Linked DNA regions of Homo sapiens: region 1 is linked to region 2. Evidence: fine-mapped expression QTL. Tissue or cell type: lung. Region 2 holds a variant in brackets; the other region holds the start of a gene. All regions are shown on one strand. Distances are between the middles of the regions.

Region 1 (8,105 bases), 49 kb after region 2:
GCCTGACACAAGTGCACAGAGACTGATATGCTCAAAGGGAAGATGATGTGAAGACACATGAGAAGACAGTCACGTAATGCCAAGGTTTACCACAAGCATCTGCACCAAGAATTCGATGGATGGGCCTTTAGGAACTCCCAACCAATTTCCATTAGCCTCCCTCCCAAACCCTTCTCAGAATAAACATATAATTTTAAAAACAGTTTTGAGGTTCAGTACCCAGTATCTTTTTTCCAGTCCTATTGCCTCCTTTATAGCCGTATTTTATATATATATAATTTTTTTTTTTTTTTTGAGACAGAGTCTCACTCTGTCACCCAGGCTGGAGTGCAGTGGCACGATCTCGGCTCACTGCAACCTCTGCCTCCTGGGTTTAAGCAATTCTCCTGCCTCAGCCTCCCGAGTAGCTGGGAATACAGGCACAAGCCGCCACACCCGGCTAATTTAGTTTCACCATGTTGCCCAGGCTGGTCTGGAACTCCTGAGCTGAGGCAATCCACCCTCCTTGGCCTCCCAAAGTGCTGGGATTATAGGCGCGAGCCACCGCGCCTGGCCCAGTCCTATTATAGTTTTTAGCTGCCCCAAGAGGACAGGTTTACATTGTAGAAATGCAATCCACTTCAAATTGAACCACAAGCATAACTTTTAAAAAATGTTCTGTAGCTGACAGCCTTTGCATAAACTGTGTCAGTGAGAACATTTTGTCAGTGGGAGAGATCTGATTTCACCAACCGGCATCTTGCCTTTGCCTTTAGCCTTCAAGCTACCTTTAATTATTCCTGGACTTCTGGGCCAAGCTAACTTTGGGAGGCATTTAGGTTATAGGTTAAATGATAATGGCCCTTCCCCAAACTTTACGCTAAATGACCACCAGGCTAAGAAAATAGAGGAGGCTGAATTCTGCTAAGGATTGCCAGCCATTATTCCTGAGGTCACAAAATATGCAACTTCTCCAATTACTCCTGCAGACACCATCACTATTGTAGAACCTAAGATTAGCCTTTTGAGATATCTTTTCAGGTTTTTTTGCATGTCTGACACCTGGCTCCACCTGGACCTACCAACTGCTCCTGCGGCCCCACCTGGAAGCAAATCCGCGCAAGAAGACAGCTTCAACTCCCTGTGATTTCATCTCCAACCCAACCAATCAGCAGCAAGCATCCATTGCCTAGCCACCTCTGCTCCTACCCCTAAACTGTCTTTGAAACTACTCCTCAGAGACTGATTTGAGTAATTATAAAACTCCAGTCTTCCTTTCAGCCAGCTCTGCATGAATTAAACTGTTTCCCCATTGCAATTCCCCTGCCTTCATAAATTGGCTGGCTCTATCTGGGCAGCAGGCAAAAAGAACCCATTGGGGGATTACATAGCCACTCCTCATCGGAGAAATTTCTACTGGCTCTTCTTCCAGCCTCAACTCTCTTTGGCTAATCTTTCTCTATATGTAGCCTTCACTTCTTTTCATCTTTCTCTCTTCTTTCCTCTCCTAGGAGCAAAACAAAATTTCTCCTGGGCCGCACAGTTTGGCAATTATCTTTTGTTGCCTTGGCTGCAGCTACTATGCCATCAGCTCCCAACTCCTAACTTCAATGAACCAAGGAGGTATTTTTCTTAAACAAAGACCACTCCAACCCTGAAGATTGGAATTTCGCCACTGCCTGTAAGGATAACAAGCTTTAATCTGGTTTCTACATGTGGTTTTTGTTTATTTTGTTCCTGTGATTATAAACTGTAATGAAAAAAGAAAATGTTACTGTAATACTTGATATCATGTATTTATCCATGTATCCAACCTTCTTTCCATCCTATCCATCAATCCATCTTATATTCTGGATACTTTTTTTTTTTTTAAGAGACATGGTCTCACTATATTGTCCAGGCTGGTCTCAAACTTCTAGGCTCAATCAATCATCCCACCTTGGTCTCCCAAAGAGCTGGATTACAGGCATAGGTCACTGTGCCAGCATCTGGATACATTTCAAAGAAAATTGTATACATTGGTACACCTTCCCCTAAACACTTTAATATGAATATCATTAACTAGAGGTGACATTTTATTTATATTTTTTCCTTTTGAAGTCATATTAGCGTATTATAAAATGCACAATTTTTTTGTGCGTGTGTGAGATGGGGTCTTACTCTGTCACCCAGGCTGGAGTGCAGTGGCACCATCTTGGCTCACTGCAACCTCCACCTCCTGGGTTCAAGCGATTCTCATGCCTTAGCCTCCCGAGTAGTTAAGACCACAAGCAAGTGCCACCACACCCAGCTAATTTTTGTATTTTTGTAGAAATGGGGTTTCACTATGTTGGCCAGGCTGGTCTCAAACCCCCGACCTCAAGTAATCTGCCCACCTCGGCCTCCCAAAGTGCTGGGATTACAGGTGTGAGCCACCTTGCGCCCTGGGCTGTAGTGTTATTTTTGTGGCAAAAAAATTGAAACCCTAAAATTCTGACTGCAGTGGAAGGGTAAGTGTATTTCAAGCCCTAGTGATACAGACCAACTTGGAAGCTTCAGACAGGAAAAGTTTGCTAGATAGTTATTTATTTTTAACTAAGCATGTACTTTTATGTATCTCCCATATGGCATGGAACACCTGCTCACTGCAGCCTGGAGCTCCTGGGCTCAAGTGATCCTCCCACCTCAGCCTTCTGAGTAGCTTGGACAGCAGGCGCGTGTCACCACATCAGTTAATTTTTGTTATTTTTTGTAGAGAGGGGGTCTCAATATGTTGCCCAGGCATTATGGATTTTATGCATTCGGGACCATCCCATGCTTAAAGCATGACAGAACCCGGCGGCATATTTTTCTCTGCCGCAGCTTTCAGTGCAGGGGCACCTCACAGGCAGGGCGGGGTCAAGGCTCTGTCCAGACAATGGCTGCAGAGTAAAAAGCACTTCCATTTATGGGGGTCAAGGGCGAGGGGAGGGAGAAAGGAGCAGGGAAAGAGGAGAAGTGGCCACATGTACTTTGATTTGTTTTTTGCTTTTTGTTACATGTACTTTTGAAGCAGTATTTAGAAGTAGCCTCTCCTACAGCCCCTGCTGTAGCTTGTCTCCTAGCTGTGAGGTGAGTTATTCAGTACCCTCTAACGTAAAAATGACCTTCAGACAGACAGACAGACACACACACACACACACACACACACACAGAGGAAAACAGCTCTGTCATCCACTTTTTCTTCCTTTCCCGTCCCCAGACCCTCGATTCTCTCTTTAAAATGACTGCTGTGAAGATAACGTAACACAGAGTAATACTAATGACAAATTATCAAAAAAGAAAAAAAAAATAAAAATCTTTATTAGTGTTTTTTAAAATGACGTAAAAGACTATGGGAAAAAATGCCAACAATAGTTATGTATAACTTTTTTGTTCATATTTCCAAAACGTTTATAACATACATAACTTTAAAAGAAAAATAATTTAAAAAATACATATCTGAAAATGAAACCCCGCTGTTTGCCAACGACCAGCTGGCTTAATCTGACTTCGCAGATGTAGCAGTGTTGGAAAACGTCGGTTCTTTTGCTGAGGGAAGGAAGAGATGGGAGGGGTAGAAAGGGCGGTGGTTATTCCCTTTAGTATTTCGATCCGGTCACACAACCTAAATCCAACATCTGCATCAAATGTCTCCTTTCCGAAATACTCTCCCTAAAATGACAGAGAACCTGGCCAGGCGGACAGAACGGCCCCTGCGCATTTGCAGGGGTCCTGGTGGGCTTGCCGGGCAGAGGGCGTGCGGGTCTCAGCAAGCTGCCGGGTCCGCCCAGGCCCCGCCCCATGCCCATTCAGGCCCCGCCCCCGACCCGCAGGCCCCGCCCCCGACCCGCCCCGTCCGCCTCCGTCACGTGATGGGGCGCCGGGTCCAGCCTGTTGCTGATGCTGCCGTGCGGTACTTGTCATGGAGCTGGCACTGCGGCGCTCTCCCGTCCCGCGGTGGTTGCTGCTGCTGCCGCTGCTGCTGGGCCTGAACGCAGGTAGGTTCAAGCAAGAGGCGCACCAGCTGCCATGCCTCTTTTTTCTCCAGGCGTGAGAGTTTGTTACTGGGTTTGTGCTTTTGAAAACATGTCTCTTTTCCCCGGTTCTTACCTTGTGTAATTATATTGCTTTTGAATCTCACTCTTTTTTTTTTTTTTCCTTAAAAAATTCAAAGTGCTTTTTTTGTCCTTTTCTGGCTCTGGGTGGTCTGAGTGCTTCCGTTCTCTCCTACGCCTAGATAGAAGCTGTGTGCAGAAATGTATGATTTGGGGAAACTGCTGGTCAATGAGGTTTCCCCGATTCAAAGGCCATGATTGGCTGCTAAATGAGGATATAAGGTCGTTTTATTTTAAGCTGAAATCTGCGGTCAAAAGTACCCTTACATCCTACCACGAATGGGACATTTCATTGAGATAAGGCCCTTTCTTTTCTTGATCAAAACAAACAAGATAACATCTTCCCCCACAGCGATCTTTTTTGGCAAAAAACAGATTTGTGTTTAATAGGATGACTTGCAAATTGATTTTCAGCAAAACCTCTCCTAGTCTGAAGCAAGCACTGAGAATTGGAACTGGCCACAAGCTTGCCTTGTGACCTTAGGCAAGTTGTTGAACAGTTTTGTTTTCCTTTTCTAAAATGGGGATCATCTGGCCCTTAGGCGAGTGTCTGGGAGATTTTGTAAAATAAGTAGCTCTGCCAATTTTACCAGTAGTCACTGCCAGGCAAGGGAGAAGTGCCTGGGGTTAGGTCAAAAGGTACCTGCGCCTTATCTGTCATTCTCAAGGGAGCGCAGCCTTATCTGTTATTGTCAAGGACAATATAATCGTGTGTTACTTGTATATAGAACCTTATAGCTAAGTCTGTAATGTTTTAGTCATCTGTTTTGCTCCTCAGGACACTTTCTGGTTTTCTTAATCTTCATTGTTGTTTTGTTTTGAGTCAGGGTCTCACTATGTTGCCCAGGCTGGTCTGGAACTGCCTGACTCAAGTGATCTTCCTACTTCAGCATCCCAAGTAGCCCGGACTGCAGACACAGGCCACCACCCTGGCTCTTTCTTATTTACAAGACGTTGTCTCATTGTCTTCCTCTCTACTCCTGTCTCTTTAGCTGTTGGGACCAGTGTTCTTTTACTGACCAATGGGGCTTGAAATTTGAGAAGGGAGGAAATAGAAGGCAGAAAACTCCAGTCACCGAGGGGATCCCCCCCATCATCTTTTAACAACAGCCCCTCTACTTTTTTTTTTCCCAGAGTGGTTTTGGAGGAAAAAAAAAAAGATGCTATAACTTGGAAATTGTTACGTTAGCAAAAAGTGACAAAGAAAATGTATTTAGCCTACTCTTTTCTAAAACATATTTTGTGGATGCTAGAAAAGTTAAGTAAGGAAAATTGGAGTTAGGGGATTATAGGATACGTATATTAAACACACATACACAGATATATATCGTTCAGTTTAAAAAAATCATCTACATGAGTTAGGAAAATTGCCCTTTTTCATATTTGTTGTAGCTCTTTCCTTGCTGTTTGCCTTTTTATTTTTGATTTACAGAAATTTTGTTGTATAGAAATATAACAAGTTTCTGTTCTCACCTCCATCATTGTTTCTTTTGTACAGTCTCTGGGGTTTGCTTAGATTCTTTCCTCATCCAGACATTAGAAATATATTTAACTATATTTTTGTATTTTTTTAATGTTTAAAGTTTAAAATTTAATTGCTTGATCCTCATGGAACTTATTTCGTTTATAGTGTTGAGAGGACCTAAATTTCTCTTTTTTTCTCCAAAAAAGGTAATTGTTGCTCCATTACTGTATATTGAATATTCTCAGCCCCACTAATTTGTGATGCCTCTTCACTCATGTTTTTTGTTTGTTTGGTTGGTTGGTTTTTTGTTTTTTTGAGATAGGATCTCCCTCTGTCACCTAGGCTGGAGTGCACTGGTGTGATCACAGCTCACTGCAGCCTCAACCTACTGGGCTCAAGCGATTCTCCTACCTCTGTCTCCTGAGTAGCTGGGACCACAGGCATATGCCACAATGCCCAGCTAATTTTTGCATTTTTTGTAGAGATGGGGTGTTGCTATGTTGCTTAGACTGGTTTTGAACTCCTATGCACAAGCTATCAGCCTGTCTTGGCCTTCCAAAGTGTTGGGATTACAGGAGTGAGCCACCAAGCCTGGTGTCTTACTCATGTATTAAATACGATATAAAAACCAGTATATTGCATTCTGAGATTTTTACTTTTTTACTCAAAATATAAATCTCTCTTGTTTTTACAGAATTATAAAAGTATTTCCTGTAATCCCAGCACTTTGGTAGGCCTAGGCGGGCAGATCACCTGAGGTCAGGAGTGCGAGACCAGCCTGACCAACATGGAGAAACCCCATCTCTACTAAAAATACAAAATTAGCCAGGCGTGGTGGTGCATGCCTGTAATCCTAGCTACTTGGAAGGCTGAGGCAGGAGAATCGCTTGAACCCGGAAGGCAGAGGTTGCGGTGAGCCGAGATTGCGCCATTGCATTCCAGCCTGGGCAACAAGAGCGAGACTTCGTATCAAAAAAAAAAAAAAAAAAAAAAAAGTGTTTCATATTTATTGTTAAAAATCCAAACATTACAGAAAAGTGTAGAGGAAAAAGTGAAAGCCCCTGGCCTCCTATGCCGCTGTTAAGTTTGGTTTCTTTTTTCATAGCCGAGGTTTTTTCCTTATTCCTGCAATGTACTGGGGTGGCTAAATTACCAAACTATAAAACAAATCATCTCTAGCCTAGCATGGCTGTCTCTACCAGGCTTGGAATTTACCTGTACATTAGGCACTCTTCTGGAGAGTGAAATTGAACTTCTGTTTCAGGAGCTGTCATTGACTGGCCCACAGAGGAGGGCAAGGAAGTATGGGATTATGTGACGGTCCGCAAGGATGCCTACATGTTCTGGTGGCTCTATTATGCCACCAACTCCTGCAAGAACTTCTCAGAACTGCCCCTGGTCATGTGGCTTCAGGTAAAGTAGCTTCCCAGCCTGGCCTGAGGTCAAAGCCAAGTCTCCTCTGTGTGGCTCTTTGCTTGCTTTTTGGGCTGATGTCTCAGCAGTGAAGGGCGGATTTGGTCCAGCAGTGTGACCTGGGGGTTCGGCGTGCTTCTGAGGTAGGCTGAGGCAATGGTATAGCCAAGGAGGCTAAATCAGAGGGCGAGGGGGTTCTAGCCTTTTGCCAGAGTCTCTTTATATTTCCAGACGGTCACAAGAAGGCTCACTGAAAACTCCTGATGATACATTTGAATACATAGTGATAGAAAGTGTTTTGAGGCCGGGCACAGTGGCTCATGTCTGTAATCCCAGAACTTTGGGAGGCCGAGGTGGGTGGATCATACGAGGCCAGGAGTTCGAGACCAGGCTGGCCGACATAGTGAAACGCTGTCTCTACTAAAAATATTTAATACAAAAATTATCCAGGCATGGTAGCACATACCTATAATCCCAGCTACTCAGATGGTTGAGGCATGAGAATTGCTTGGACCCGGGAGGCGGAGGTAGCAGTGAGCTGAGATCGTGCCACTGCGCTCCAGCCTGGGCGACAGAGCAAGACCCTATCTCAAAAGAAAAAAGAAAAGAAAGTGTTATGGAAGGTTCCAAAGCAAAGACCTGAGGTAGCCTGACCCTCCCTTCCTCTCCATACAATCCTTTCCTGAACCCTAACTTCTTACCCCCAGAAAACCTGATCTTTTGAAGGGACTGCTACAAGCCTTCTGCACCTTCGTGTGACTGTTGCGCCTTCCCCCTTTCCCTGAGTGTGTTTGCATTTTAACCTTGAGCTCTGATTGTAGGATGGAAGGCAGGGAGCTGGTTGAAAGATTTGTAGGGACAGGCAGAGGCTCTTTTCTGGCATTTCTGAAATATCTGTCCAGAGATGGCCCACCCCCACCCGGAAGACCACCCACCAGGGAGGAATTAAGGAACATGGTCTTGCCTCTGGAAAATGTAGGCATGGCCCAGCTGGAACCCTGGGCCCCTCATCAGTAAATAGGGACCCTGGTGCTCACCTCCATAGGATGCTACTGGGACGTCTTCCAACAATGCTGGTATTTATAAGCAGCCTCCCACCACCTGGGTTTTGCCTCCCAGGATGGTCGATGCAG
Region 2 (8,105 bases):
GAGTATTGCTTAAACCCAGGAGTTCAAGGCTGCAGTGAGCTAGGATTTCACCACTGCACTCCAGCCTGGGTGATAGAGCAAGAGCCCCATCTCAAAAAACAAAAACAAAAACCTCTTAAAACTCTACAATAAAACAACCATTTAAAAAATGGGCAAGAGGTCTGAACAGACACCTCACTAAAGAAGATATCCAGATGGCAAATAAACATATGAAAAGATGCTCAACATCATATCATATGTCATTGGGATGGGACATATTAAGACAACGATGAGATGCCACTACACACTGTGAAAGGAAAATATCTTGGGGCTGGCCCAAAAATCACTAAGCTAAAGGGAAAAGTCAAGCTGGGAACTGCTTAAGGCAAACCTGCCTCCCATTCTATTCAGACACCCCTCTGCTCACTGAGATAATGCGTATCTGAATGCCTCCTTTGAAGGGGCTAATCAGAAATTGAAAAGAATGCTACCATTTGTCTCTTACCTACCTATGACTTGGAAGTTCCCTCCCCACCTAGAGTTGTCCCACCTTTCCAGACTGAAGCAATATTCATCTTACATATGTTGATTGATGTCTTCTGTCTCCCTAAAATGTGTAAAACCAAACTGTGCTCTGACTACATTGGGCATACATAGTCAGGACCACCTGAGGCCATGTCACAGGTGTGCATCCTCAACCTTGGCAAAATAAACTTTCTTTTTTTTTTTTTTTTTTTTTTTTTTTTGAGATGGAGTCTCACTCTGTCACCCAGGCTGGAGTGCAGTGGCGCGCTCTCGGCTCACTGCAAGCTCCGCCTCCCGGGTTCACGCCATTCTCCTGCCTCAGCCTCCCTAGTAGCTGGGACTACAGGCGCCCGCCACCACGCCCAGCTAATTTTTTGTATTTTTAGTAGAGACAGGGTTTCTCCGTGTTAGCCAGGATGGTCTCGATCTCTTGACCTCATGATCCGCCCGCCTCGGCCTCCCAAAGTGCTGGGATTACAGGCGTGAGCCACCGCGCCCGACCAAAACTTTCTAAATTAACTGAGACTTGTCTCAGATTTTCGAAGTTCACATTTTGGTAACCACAGAGGGATTCTACGTGGAGGTGCCCCTGACCTTTGACAAATCTCCTATTGGTGCTTGGCACCAGCTTGAGCTATCTTTATGGCTCAAACCAATAGGACAATTTGCTGAGGCCTGGAAGCACACCCTCCAGAGAATCTCTGATTTCCCAATATTTGATTGAGATCTAAAGTTTATTTTGCTGTGCAACTCTTTTTTGGAGTTTTACTTGCTTCCAACACAAGGAAGGCAAGTTTTTCCTGCTTCCATGACGATGGAAAGCAGGTAACTCCTTTATGGAGTTTCAGCTCACTTACAACAGGGAAGATGAGGTTATTTTTTTCCTGCTTCTAGGATGGTAGAGAGCTGTCTTCAGCCTGAGACCCATCCCTAGGTAAGTAACTGAATTGGGGTTTCTCTTGGCTAAATTTAAGATTAACCACCAGCTGGTGTGGTGAGGGGAGAAAAACAGCCAGCAGAAGAAAAAAAATGTGGAAAAATTTTGACTACTAAGGGGCTTTATTTACATAACAAGGCCACCATTTTGCTAGCCAGGCTGAACTGAAAGAGCAATGGCTGTACTTCTGAAATAGCAGCAATTGTCCTCACTGAAATATGGTAATAAGATTTAAAAAGATTTTTTTAAAGGAGCTCAATAGTTAAAAGTCACCATTAATTTAAAGCTAACATCCAAGATGTGTGTGTATCTGTGCATATGTGTGTTTATATTTCAAAGGCCTTCATATTTTTGTTTTGTTTTTCTTCTAGGACCTTGTCTCTTTTTTGAACAAAAGTTTTTTCTTCTCAGTTGACTGAATTCTTCATTTACTTCTGCTATCTCTCCTTTCTCTTGCACCCTCTGCTGTATGAGGGACCTAAAATAGCTTATAATAGCCTGGAGTTCCTTAAAGCAAACGGAGAAGGCACCAGACTCCCTTTAGGGGAGAAACCTGTTTTTCCTTATGGAATCCCAACAGTGTAAACAGACAAGTTTGTCTAAGCCCTTAAACTGCTTGCTTTTGTATGGTGTTACCTGATTTATTGACTAAAATAGTTATTGCAACAGAGGCTACTCTTGGGTTTTTAAAGAAGCATGGGGTGTAGACACTTAAAAATGTCTTTGTTACAAAAAAAAATTTTTTAAGTCCCCTGTAAAAACATCACGTGGTTTAGCCTAATAGTAATTCTCCCTTTTTGGAGACCCAGGATTCAGTGTGGGCTCTGCCCAGAGATCCAGGTAAAAGACAGGTAAGACCTATCTAAATAAAATTGGTCTCCTTGTACAATCCTATGATACGTTTTTATAATTTTATGTTTGATCTGGCATCCATCTTTAATCTTCCTCTAGCACACCAGACTTTTTCTCTCCATACCTTATGATGTAAATTTTGCTATTTGATTTTCAACTGAGTTGTTTCCTTTAATATGCAAATTTAAGGCTACTTAACTGACAACTGCCTAGGGCTGTGAAACAGGTTATCAAGAATCTGAAAGTCTGAAATAGAAAAAAACAGGTTTTTATGAATCTATAAAATGTGCTTCTATTTGCATGCCTAATATCTCTATGTATGTGTGTGTTGTGTACACAATGTTTCACTGCTGAAAATATATAAAAGAGCTCTAATTAATTGTCTTAAGAAAATAAAAGTGTTTGAATCAAATACTTTATCAGGAAAAAAGAAAAGACTAGTCAAATGCTTTTTCAAGTTTACATACCTTAAGTAAGTACAATCTTTTTTTTTTTTTTTTGAAAGAGAGTCTCGCTCTGTCACCCAGGTTGGAGTGCAGTGGCACAATCTCAGCTCACTGCAGGCTCTGCCTCCCGTGTTCACGCCATCCTCCTGCCTCAGCCTCCCGAGTAGCTGGGACTACAGGTGCCTGCCACCATGCCTGGCTAATTTTTTGTATTTTTAGTAGAGACGGGGTTTCAACATGTCAGCCAGGATGGTCTCGATCTCCTGACCTTGTGATCCGCCTGCCTCGGCCTCCCAAAGTGCTGGGATTACAGGCGTGAGCCACTGTGCCCAGCCAAGTAAAATCTTTAATAAATAAGCTAGTTTTAAAATTATTGGTAATGGTCAGGCGCGGTGGCTCACGTCTGTAATCCCAGCACTTTGGGAGGCCAAGGCGGGCAGATCACAAGGTCAGGAGATCGAGACCATCCTGGCTAACACAGTGAAACCCCGTCTCTACTAAAAATACAAAAAATTAGCCAGGCATGGTGGTGGGCACCTGTAGTCCCAGCTACTCGGGAGACTGAGGCAGGAGGATGGCGTGAACGCGGGAGGCAGAGCCTGCAGTGAGCCGAGATCGCACCACTGCACTCCATCCTGGGCGACAGAGCCAGACTC[C/T]GTCTCAAAAAATAAATAAATAAATTTAATTATTGGTAATTTAATATTAGAAATGTCTTAAGAATTGCCAGCATACATCTTTTTGTTTGCATTTATTGACCAAGCAATTTCATACTTATCCCTGCCAAATACTACAAGGTGTCAAAATTTGACATGGGGGTTACAAAACTATAAAGCCAGCCCAAAACATAATGACCTTTGCTCATGTCGTCTTTAATAAATAAGACACTGACATTGATTTAATAAAAATAGCTGCATCTTGAATTTAATAAGATTACCATACTTCTATCTTGTGGCTTTAGGTGGTCTAGTCCACAGGCAGTAAGGTGTGTTTTCGGAAAGGACTGTTATCATCTTCGTTTCAAAGTGAAACTATAAACTAAGTTACTCCCAAAGTTCAGGAATGAACAAGGACAGCTTGGAGGTTAGAAGCAAGATGGAGTCCATTAGGTCATATATTTTTCACTGTCTCAGAATTTTGCAATGGCAAGTTTCATAACTTTAAATGATGACTATTGCAGTTTTCATAAATCTGGGTAAACAATTAAAATAGATAAATGTAATGGGATAAATACTTGCAGACAAACTTGTCATAATTTAGAATCTAAAGTTAAATTAAATAATAGGTATATCATTATTTGGGTATTTTCCAATTAAAATATATTGTAGGAAAACATTCTTTCTATTTAAAAAAATGTATCCTGGCCAGGCAGGGTGGCTCACACCTGTAATCCCAGCACTTTGGGAGGCCGAGGCAGGTGGATCACCTGAGGTCAGGAGTTCAAGACCAGCCTGGCAAACATGGTGAAACCCTGTCTCTACTAAAAATACAACAATTAGCTGGGCGTGGCGGCAGGTGCCTGTTATCCCAGCTACCCGGGAGGCTGAGGCAGGAGAATCACTTGAACCCGGGAGGCGGAGGTTGCGGTGAGCAGGGATCACGCCATTGCACTCCAGCCTGGGCAACAAGAGCAAAACTCCCCATCTCAAAAAAAAAAAAGTGTCCTTTTAAAAAAGGTGAACAATTTTTATCTGATTTAAAGTTTATTTAAAGGTCATGTATAAAACAAGGTAAAAGGAACAAAGAAATAAGAGAGATGTAAAGAAAGTTATGAAAATAAAGAGGGTTTTTTGGTAATCATTTAAAAAAGCTTAAAGAGAAATAATTTCATATGAGAAAGAATCTTGTGTGGTAAATTTAGTCCTAAAGTAAAATAACTGGTTGTTTAAGAAAGGGATGTTCAAGACAAACCAGAAAGTCCAAGCATGTCATGAATGGTCTGTATAAATCACAATAAGAGGATTTATAAAAACAAAAAAAAGTTTATATGATCAAGTTGTCATATTATTATTAAGCTTTGGTTTGCTTAGGGAAAAAATTGAGAATAAAATTTGTTTAAATTAAGGTTATTACATCTGTGTATCTCTCTGTATGCCCTTTTAAAGTACTTGTGACATTGAGTTACAGGGCTTTGACTCCTGGGTCCAAAAAGAACACCAAGTCTTGCTAAATCTTAAATACTGGCAGCAATTAAAGCCTCATCTTCAGGCCCAATAGAAGATGCTAATCAAAACAAACTGCATTCCTGAGACACAGGGCCAGAAATTAAAGCTATTCAACTCCTCAAGGCCCAGGGACTATTGCAGAAGAGGTGGGCATGTGAGATTGTAAGGGCTGATTTTGAGAGATAAAATAAGTTCAGTTTCTCTATAAATTAATCATTAATGTCAAAGGCACACTGATGCAAGACCAGCATATGGGCCCCTGTGTCAAATTAACAAGGTTTTCTTGAAGCATTAACCAACTCCTTATTAAAGGTTATAAAGGTTTATGGAAGTTATATCTTATGGTCAAGATAAAAATTTTATAGATTGCTTATAAAATTTTGGAAAAAAATTTAATTGTCTTCATGCCGTTTTTATTAGGGCTTATCATTTGGAAAATTAAGTCTCCTGTCTCAAAGAATGAAGGTTTTTGCCTTTTTAAAAAATCTTTGAATTATTACTTTGGTTAAATGAATGACTTATTTTACAATGGCCTGGGATCCTATTTTGTAATATCAAGTGTTTTAAACTTTTGGTATTTGACAAAGTTTCCAAAATTAAATGATAAATTATCTCTTTCTGACCTAAGTAACTCTTTAAGATATTAATAGGTTCCCTAAAGTCCAAAAATGACATATTTGGCTTACTTGGTATAAAAATTATACAGGAAGCATTGACAAATATGAAATGGTGTTTGGTTTTCTTTGGGCTGTATTTGTATAAATATGTTAGTCATATATGTTCCAAAATTATGGGAAACTCCTATAATACTGATATGACTTAATGTATGTTATCAGTAATAATTGTTACATTAAAGTATTACGTGCCACAGAAGTGACAGATTTCCTGTCAATTGTGTCTTTGACTATGGCTGCACTAAAACTTTTTGTCATCCACAGACAATTTTTGTCTTGTTTTGGTCCTCTTTAGAAGGTGGTTTTATAATCAGCTATAAAACTCTAATAGGTGCTCTTGAATGCAGGTTTCTGATAACTTTGGAGATTGTGACATCAGAATTAAGGAAAAACTTTCAGTACTCATGGAGAGCTTAAATGTTCATGAATATCACGCAGAACAGGAATTCACTGCATAGACTAAACTAATAGAAGTCTGAAGTAATCTTTTTAACTTTTTGCTTAAAGTGTTGCTGATCCTTTGTTTCGTTTTTCAGAATGAAGAAAACTTTTCTTTTAAGCTATTTACAGCTTTTAACAATTGAGTATGCACCCATGAACAAAATTTGGAGTCTATTTGTTTCTCTCTACCTGATTTCTACATAATTTGGAAACTGTGAGTGTTCTTAACTTATGACAATACAGTTATTTGCATAAGTGCAATAAGAATCTGTTTTAATTTGTAACAGGACACAACTGGAGAAACTAGTTATTTTACTAAGGCTTTGACTGGAATGGTGTGCTTTAAGGAATCAAACTTGACTTATAGAGCCAGTAGGAACCCCTTGGAAAAACTGGCCTCATACCTTTGTCTACAGTTCCTGTACAGGGTTTCTGACCTGTGATAAGTAAAGAATGTCACTTTCTGACAGGCCCAGGAGCACCAAGTTTATCTTGGAACCACAAGAGGAGAGGAATCACCCAACTCATAGGTATTTGATGGTACAAATCCATGGCCACGTTCAGCTTTTAAAAAGTCTTATCTGAGATTCCTTCTATGGAACAAAGTTCCATCAAAGCCAATTTAAAAGCCTATGTAAAAAAAAATTATCCTTGCTGCACTATATACAAATAATTAGGCCAAGTATAATAATGCAAATCAGTCCCATAATGATCTGTCTTTAGTAAAAATGGGAAACTGGAGAGAGAAAAATTGTTTCAAAAACTATAGTACACATGTTGCTAGATTCTAATCTTGCCTAATATTTTTCATTTTTATTATTTTTTACAGTTTGGACTGAATTCTAATTTTTCTTAGCTACAACTCTTCAAAATAATGTTTCCATTATTTTTCCTTTTTCCCCATTTTTCATAATTTGGAGTCAATAAAAACTAAGCTGTGCTTTTGTAAAGTTGTATGGCCAGGCACAGTGGCTCTTGCCTGTAATTCCAGCACTTTGGGAGGCTGAGGCGTGTGGACCACTTGAGGTCAAGAGTTCATGACCAGCCTGGCCAATGTGGTGAAACCCTATTTCTACTAAAAATACAAAAATTAGTCAAGCGTGGTGGTGCATGCCTGTAATCTTAGCTATTCAGGAGGCTGAGGCAGGAGAATCGCATGAACCTGGGAGGCAGAGGTTGCAGTGAGCCGAGATAGTGCCACTGCACTCCAGCCCGGATGTCTCAAAAAAAAAAAAGCAGCAGCTCCTTACCCATCAGTCCCTCTGCAGAGCAGTCAGTGACTATTATTACGTTTCATGCATGTCCTTCCAGAACATTTTTATCCATATCCTACATCAGGAGCCTTTTTTTTTTTTTGGAAAAAGTCTCACTCTTGTCACTCAGGCTGAAGTGCAGTGACATGGTGACAGCTCACTGCAGCCTCAACCTCCCAGGCTCAAGTGATTCTCCCACCTCAGCCTCCCAAGTAGCTAGGACTACAGGCATACCACCACACCCAAGGAGCTTCCTTTTAAAATTCAAATGAGAAATAAACTCTGTAAGTATATAATGTGCTATAATTTACTTTTTCACTTAATTCTGCACCTGTTTCTTTATGGGACATAGTGGTTGAGTACAAGTTCTGGAGAAGACAACCTGTGTTTGAATCAGGCTCTTTCATTCACTGTATTCATAGGCAAGGAGTTTAACCTCTGTGCCTCAGTTTCCTCTTCTGTGAAAGGGAGAAAATAACAGTACCTATCTCCTAAGTTATGTAAATGAATTAATACCTGTAAAGTGCTTGGAAAAACAGCTGGCACATAGCTACTGTCATTTCTACTCTCCAAAGCTTCCTTGTGATAATTTTCTTGTCTCCAGCTGTGGGTCTCCATCTGGGGCCACAGTGGCAGTGATGGCTTCTCCTATGCTGATGGTGGCCAGGCCAACATGATGGTAGGGATAGTCAGGGCTGGTCAGGGCATTCTGGTCCTAAACTACTAATTCCTTGCCCCTAAACCAACTGCTCTGTTGCAAAGCACTGGTATGCTCAAATGGCTCACATTACCTGCATTCCAAGACTTTGAGCTCTACAGCTCTGCTTACCCCAATG

Evidence for each region. PIP is the estimated chance that this variant, and not a neighbour inherited with it, causes the effect.
Region 1: SCPEP1 starts here. The variant in region 2 is fine-mapped to the expression of SCPEP1 in lung (TOPMed, PIP 0.98).

What each region holds. Positions count from the first base shown.
Region 1 is chr17:56,974,259-56,982,363 of GRCh38, forward strand. It overlaps SCPEP1 (serine carboxypeptidase 1), which reads left to right and starts at 3,873. Exons shown (of 13, transcript NM_021626.3): 1 at 3,873-3,977; 2 at 6,824-6,972. The coding sequence starts at 3,902. It overlaps LOC105371836 (a long non-coding RNA gene), which reads left to right. Exons shown (of 4, transcript XR_934875.4): 4 at 1,491-1,749. RefSeq lists a silencer at 3,756-3,815.
Region 2 is chr17:56,924,883-56,932,987 of GRCh38, forward strand. No RefSeq gene overlaps it. Among named protein-coding and RNA genes, the nearest start is that of TRIM25, 15 kb to the left of the region's middle. RefSeq lists an enhancer at 146-680. The variant C/T (reference allele first, on the strand shown) is at 3,396.